Homo sapiens: one gene and its partner. The protein of the gene in region 1 purifies or fractionates together with the protein of each later gene. This does not show direct contact. Each region holds a gene or a part of one and is shown on either strand. Other genes may lie near its edges.

Evidence for each region. The genes of interacting proteins can lie anywhere in the genome.
Region 2: the proteins of TFE3 (region 1) and PFAS purify together in Homo sapiens (affinity purification with mass spectrometry; one large-scale study listed by BioGRID and IntAct). This does not show direct contact.

Annotation. Positions count from the first base shown.
Region 1 is NC_000023.11:49,033,358-49,036,857, forward strand, and holds part of TFE3 (transcription factor E3), read right to left. Parts: intron 3,418-3,500; exon of another isoform or gene 1,106-3,417; intron 895-1,105; coding exon 777-894; intron 426-776; coding exon 369-425; intron 184-368; coding exon 108-183; intron 1-107. UniProt on the Homo sapiens protein: Transcription factor that acts as a master regulator of lysosomal biogenesis and immune response.
Region 2 is NC_000017.11:8,262,789-8,266,288, reverse strand, and holds part of PFAS (phosphoribosylformylglycinamidine synthase), read right to left. Parts: intron 3,370-3,500; coding exon 3,296-3,369; intron 3,181-3,295; coding exon 3,024-3,180; intron 2,715-3,023; coding exon 2,653-2,714; intron 2,515-2,652; coding exon 2,353-2,514; intron 2,078-2,352; coding exon 1,952-2,077; intron 1,820-1,951; coding exon 1,688-1,819; intron 1,395-1,687; coding exon 1,164-1,394; intron 1,002-1,163; coding exon 821-1,001; intron 734-820; coding exon 650-733; intron 428-649; coding exon 272-427; intron 56-271; coding exon 1-55. UniProt on the Homo sapiens protein: Phosphoribosylformylglycinamidine synthase involved in the purines biosynthetic pathway. Catalyzes the ATP-dependent conversion of formylglycinamide ribonucleotide (FGAR) and glutamine to yield formylglycinamidine ribonucleotide (FGAM) and glutamate.

The DNA.
Region 1 (3,500 bases):
AAATGCCTGGGCCGAGACTGCCTGGTGAGCCCACCAAGGCACAATTTTAGTAGCATGGGACGCCTGCCCCACCTCCCGCTGGCCTGAGGGTCCCAGCCCAGACTCACGGGTCACTGGACTTAGGGATGAGAGTGCCCAGTTCCTTGATCCTGTCGTTAATGTTGAATCGCCTGCGACGCTCAACTTTGGAGAGGGGAGGAGAGGAAGAAAGAGTGGGAGAAAGAGTTGTCAATTAGCCAAAAATGGAAGAGACAGAAAGTAGGGAGTTGGGAGGCTGTTGCAGGGAAGGAGTTCCCCATGGGGGGCCAGGACTCGGGGTGAGGCAGGCCTGCACAGCACCCGGGCAATGCACACGCTCTCTGGCTTACTTAGGTTGTGATTGTCTTTCTTCTGCCGTTCCTTCAAAAGGGCCTTTGCCTCGGTCTCTGGAAAAGAGTGGAGTGATCAGGGCCTCTGAGCACAGGAAGGCAAGAAACACATGCAGATACTAAGGTAGGGTTTGGTAGCCAAAAGCAGGGGAAATGCCTTTTTTAAAAAGTGCCTTCTTTTTACTATTTTAAGCCATGGTGATAGGCTGGTTGTTAAATCCAAGACGAGAGGAACTGAAGTGGGGTGAAAGCAAGACCACAAGCCATAGGGGGAAAGGGGACAAACAGCCTCCATTTCCATATGTCCAAACCATTCCCCTCAGAATCAGGCCCATCTCTAGACCTGGTAGGCACAGGGCTCACCTGGGGTAAAGTGTAGGGCCATGGGGCCAAGACCCTATCACCTACCAGAGATCTCCCGTTTGATGTTGGGCAGCTCAGCTGGGCAGGAGTTGCTGACAGTGATGGCTGGTGTGGCCACGCCTTGACTACTGTACACATCAAGCAGATTCCCTGACACAGGCAGCTGGGGGCAGAGAGGGCAGAGAACCACCAGTTGGGAACAAACCCCAGGCTTGGCTCCTCCTCAGAACCAGGTTCCTGAGCTTCCACATATCCCAAAGATGGGGCACCCTCTAATGCAAGGACTGGCTGACTCAGCACCAGAACCCTTGCTTCTCCTTCAAGGCAAATTCACATGGCGACCAAACAGGGAGGACAGAGCAAACTGGACCTACCTTGCTTCGCTGGGAGACTGGAGCCTGCCTGGCCTGCTTATCACTTCCTCCAGTCCCTCATATCCCTCAGTGACCTCTAAAGCCCCTTTCCCAAACCCCGGGGCTGGCTCTGAGAAGAAATGCTGGAAAACCACCCTTCTCAGGTCTTTGTCGGCTCTGATGGGACATTCCAGTCCGTTAGCTCCTCCCAGCACAACATTCCAATCCAGCATTCTTGGAACACTCCAACCCAATCTTCTCCGACCTTGGTAAATTGTCATGACAACATTCTATCCAAAATCTGGCCTTCTGGAGAATTCCAACCTAATCTCCAGTCTTTCACTCTGATCAAGTTGTACCATCTTCCACTCTGATCAAGTTGTACCATCTTCCACATCAGGGTCTCCTGCTGCTGTGGACCAAGGTCCTGACTCCAGTATCTTCCTGCACATTCTGTTCTCTCAGGAGATTCTTATCCAACTATTCAATTAGCACTGCTTTATGTCAGCCTAGTTTTTTTTTTTTCCTCTCCTTCACACTTTCCTGGATATACTCCAGAGGAGCACGTCAATCTTAAGTATACCCAGGGCCAGGTGCAGTGGCTCACGCCTGTAATCCCAGCACTTTGGGAGGCCAAGGCGGGCGGATCACTTGAGGTCAGGAGTTCGTGACCAGCCTGGCCAACATGGTGAAACTCTGTCTCTACTAAAAATACAAAACAACAAAAAAAATTAGCCGAGCATGGTGGCCTGCACTTGTAGTCCCAGCTACTTGAGAGGCTGAAACAGGAGAGTTGCTTGAACCCAGGAGGTAGAGGTTGCAGTGAGCCAAGATCACACCACTGCACTCCAGCCTGGGCAACAGAGCAAGACTCTATCTCAAAATAAATAAATAAATAAATAAATACAAATAAAATAAAGTATATCCAAATCCCACTTCTTCATGAGTTTTAATCTCTTTTTTTTTTTTTTTTTTTTTTTTTGGAGACGGAGTATCGTTCTGTCACCCAGGCTGGAGGGCAGTGGCGCAATCTCGGCTCACTGCAAGCTCTGCCTCCCGGGTTCACGCCATTCTCCTGCCTCAGCCTCCCGAGTAGCTGGGACTACAGGCACCCGCCACCACGCCCAGCTAATTTTTTCGTATTTTTAGTAGAGACGGGGTTTCACTGTGTTAGCCAGGATGGTCTGGATCTCCTGACCTTGTGATCTGCCCGCCTCAGCCTCCCAAAGTGCTGGGATTACAGGTGTGAGCCACCGTGCCTGGCTGAGCTTTAATCTCTTGAACCCACTTCCAGTCTGGTGGATATAAGGTCCCATTCTCTAGTTGTGTCCAAATCAATAAAAAGTTCTGATAAATTAGTCCCATTTTTATACATGCTTCCATCCTATTGATAAGTTGGAAAAAAGCAAAACTACAGCCACTTGGTATGCTCTAAAGCAAGTTATGAGACCAGGCATGGTGGCTATGTCTGTAATCCCAGCACTTTGGGAGGCCGAGGTGGGCAGATGGCTTGAGCTCAGGAGTTCGAGACCAGCCTGGGCAACACAGTGAGACCCTGTCTCTACTAAAAATGCAAAAAATTAGCCAGGCATGGTGACACAAGCCTATGGTCCCAGTTACTTGGGAGGCTGAGGTGGGAGGATCACTTGAGCCCGGAAGGTGGAGGCTGCAGTGAGCCAGGATTACACCACTGCACTCCAGCCTGGGTGACAGAGCAAGATCCTGTCTCAAAAATAAATAAATAGGCCGGGCGCGGTGGCTCAAACCTGTAATCCGAGAACTTTGGGAGGCCGAGGCAGGTGGATCACCTGAGGTCAGGAGTTCGAGACCAGCCTGACCAACATAGTGAAACCCCGTCTCTACTAAAATACAAAAATTAGCCAGGCGTGCTGGCGGGCACCTGTAATCTCGGCTACTTGGGAGGCTGAGGCAGGAGAATTGCTTGAACCCAGGAGGCAGAGGGTGCAATGAGCAGAGATCGCACATTGCATTCCAGCCTGGACAAGGAGAGTGAAACTCCATCTCAAAAAAAAAAAAAAAATTCAATAAAAAATAAATAAATAAATAAATAAAGCAAGTTAGGCCAGGCATGGTGGCTCATGCCTGTAATCCCAGCACTTTGGGAGGCCGAGGCAGGCAGATCACAAAGTCAGGAGATTGAGATAACCTGGGTAACACGGTGAAACCCCGTCTCTACTAAAAATACAAAAATTAGCCGGGCATGGGGGCACGCGCCTGTAGTCCCAGTTACTCAGGAGGCTGAGGCAAGAGAATCGCTTGAACTTGGTAGGCGGAGGTTCCAGTGAGCCGAGATAGCACCATTGCGCTCCAGCCTGGGTGACAGAGCAAGACTTTGTCTCAAAAAATAAATAAATAAATATAATAAAGCAAGTTATGAGACTCTTGGAGTGTTCAA
Region 2 (3,500 bases), on another chromosome or scaffold:
AGGCATGTGACGAGGCCTCCGTCACTGACATCGTGGCCTGAGCAGAGGAGGCGGTCTGGAGGAAGGAGAAGAAAGCTCAGCAACCTCGGGACCCAAACCTGACAGCCCCACCCCACCTTCCGGAGTCAGTCCATCAAGAGTGTGTGTCAGAATGTCAGGGGATCTGGGGTACATCGTCCATTGGAGTCCCTTTTGCCCCACTGCTCAGATGGTGAACGCCTGCTGCACGCCTGGCACCCTGTGCGCTATCTCCCCAGGGGTCTTCACTCACCTTTCAGCAGCCCCTGAGTGATGCTGAAGGCCCGCACCAAGTTCTCAGGAAGGTCCAGGTCTGGAGGGTGTTCCCCAAGCTGGGAGAAGCACTGGGCCAGAGCTGTGCCCCCGAGCCGGTGCTGCCCAGGGCTCAGAGCCACATAGAGCAGATGGCCTGGGGAGACGGGGAGGGGTGAGGGGAGGGGAACAGCTCAGGAGGACCCATCCCTGAGGGGCTCACAGCACTGCTATTCCCAGCATGTGGTGAGACACCTAGACAATCAGTCCCAGAAAACACCACAGCCCAGTGTTGAGATGGGGGCCCAGCACTCACAAAGCAGGAGCCAAACAAAGATCACACAAGCAAAGATCACAAAGGATGGGGCCATGTCCATACCTCTCCCTTCAGGATGCTTGAGGTCTGGGGTCACAGTGGCTGTGATGTCTGGGCAGACGGCATAGGCTGAGATGACCAGTGACCCTGTAGAGCAAGGAGGAGTCCAAAGGAATGAGTTGCCAACCCAGCTCCATAGTTCCTCCTCCCCTCCCTGGGGCTCCCACACCTCACCAGGAGCCCGCACGGTCTCAGTGCCAACCCGAGCAGCCATGCTGAGGGAGTCCTTGCCACCATCCACTGCCACACCCAGGGCTGCCATCACTGCCACCATAGCCTCACAGGCATCCGCCAAAGCTGCGCCCTCCCCTGGGAGCTTGGCTGCCCACATCCAGTTCCCGCTACACTTCACATCCTGGGGGTGGCAGAGGCACAGCATTAGAGGGGAAGAGAAATGTGGAGAGGCCAGGGGTGCAGGCGGACTGGGAGGTTGCAACATGAAATGAAGGGCTACAGATGGATGTGGAAGGGTCCTGAAGCCCGGGGGCTCCAGGATAGAAGCTGTGGGAGAACTCACCCGGAGGTCAGTGACCAGAGCAAACACCAGGTTGGTGAGGGCTTCGGCCACGGCCAGCCGGGCGGCGACTTTTGGGTCCAGCAGGCTCTTGACTGGCTGTTCTCCCAAGGCTGTGGCAGCCCCTATGAGCTCCTCATGGCTCAGTGCCACAACCGCTACATCTGCCAGAGGAGTTTGCAGGGGCCCCACGCACTGCTGCTGGGCCACCAGGCCTCCCACAGAGCGGTCCACCTGTGGAACCAGGTGGGGTTAGCAAGAGAGCAAGGGACAGGGACAGCCTGAGCTCCCGCACATGCCCCCAAGGCACTCAGGGCAGTGGGAGGCCTGTCTTTCCCCCAATGCAGACAACAGCTCTACTTAGAAGGTGGGTAGCAGGGAGACCAGGCCATCAGGGTGGCTGCCCTGCCCCTGCTGCTTCCTGCAGGGCCAGGCAAAAACCCCCACAGCACTTTCTAAGGGTGGGAGGGCAGAAGAGGCTGAGCGGAGGAAGGAGGCAGGGGGCAGAGGAAGGGTGCAGGGAGGACCTTATTGGTGAGGTAGCGCTTGCTGGCCACGGCGGGCAGCCTCAGAACCCTCTCCAGAGCCTGGTGCACGCTCAGCCCTGGGGGCAAGGCCAGAGGCTGCAGCATGGGGGGCTTCCTCTGCAGGAAGAACTCCTGCAACACAGACAGCGACAGGCAGTGTGAACACCTGGGGCGGGCTGGGCACACAGGCGACAAAGTGCACGTAGGGTAAAGGGTGGTGTGGAGAGGACCACAGGAAAAACCCATCCCCTCAACCCCACATACCTTCCGAGGCATCTTGCCCAGCACCCATTCGAGCTCCAGGTCCACAGGGGTTGGCAGGGGTGTCGGGGGGGCATCCCCCTGGCCATTTCTTCTGACAGGACACTCCCGATCGTCCACCAGCACTATCTATAGACCACAGGGACCCCACCCAGAGGGGATGAGACTATGAACACCAGCAAGGAATGTTCCTAGAAATCAGGGCACAAATGTGCTTTCCACTCCTTGTTTGGTTTCCATATTGAGTCCCTGCCCCTCCTTGGATCCAACATTCCCCACAGCTTGTTTGCCACTACCTCCCATCTTCCTCTCGTCTCTCTCCCTTGACAGCTCTCCCTCTAGCCCATACCCAGGTGGCTCATGTCTGCCCCAGTGTTTGCTCCCAACTCCCTGGGCCAACTCACTCTCCGGTCTCCAGTGATGGTGCCCACGAAGCAAGCCGGGCAACGTTCACGGGCACTGACATGAGTCAGGAAGTCCCGGTTGGGGGACCTCAGCAGAAGAGCATTTGATTCCTGGTACTCAGCCCCCCAGATTTCCAGGGCATTCAGGGTTGGGTCCCCAAGCTGCACAGCCACGGCGGGGAGGAAAGAGAAGGGCCAGTGGGCACTCCCACGTCTCATGTTGTTGCAAGAGAGATGGGTGGAAGCGGGCTGGGGCTGGCAGGGGTGGGAAAATGTCACACTTCAGGGGACGAGACCCACCTGGAAGCGGCTGGTGTAAATGATGGCTCCAGCTGGGTCACTCAGCTCTTTTAGGACATTGCCTGGTGAGAGGGTTGCAAGGAGAAGCAGTGACCTAGTGGTGGTCAGGCAACAAAGGGCAGTCCCTGGCCTCCAAAGGGGCCTGTAATTTGGTGTGTTCCTGTGTCAACTGCTGCCGCACCCTTACCACCAATCATCCCACGGCAGCAGGCTTCCACCCTTCCAACCCTGAACCTGTCTAGAATGTACAGAGCATGGAGAATGGGACCCAGAGCTGGGTGGTTGGTTGGAGATTCCTGATACCTCTCCCTAAACGAAACCTGGCAGGATACCAGGCAGGCCCAGTCTCTTGTTCCAACTCCTTTCCTCACCATTGCCACCAGCGCCCTGATCATGAAGGCTGCAGATGGGGTTTCCCTTGGGGGCCTCCACACAAGCCCTGATCACACGGTTCATCTTCTGTTCCATCTCCGGGTCTCCTCGCTGCACAGCCCCAAAGTCCAGGTCACTGGTGTTATCTCCCTGCACCTGGGGGCATATATGGCATAGCTCAGCTCAGCGAGACTGGAAGCTCCTATACGCTCCCCTATGCCTGGGGCCCGGTTATATCAAGGATTCTGCACCTTTAGCAATTCCCACTCACCTGCACAGATGAAGCAGCTCCACCTCCAACTCCAATCCTGTAGACGGGACCTCCAACCTTTACAACTTCCATGCCTGTAAGAAGGGAAGGCAGAATCAGAACACTGGGGAAGCCACGAGAAGAGGCCTCGAAAGCAAGGCAGCGTGAACACAGAGGAAGCTGATGTTAGGGAGAAGCCTGACCAGCTTTTTTTTTTTTGAGATGG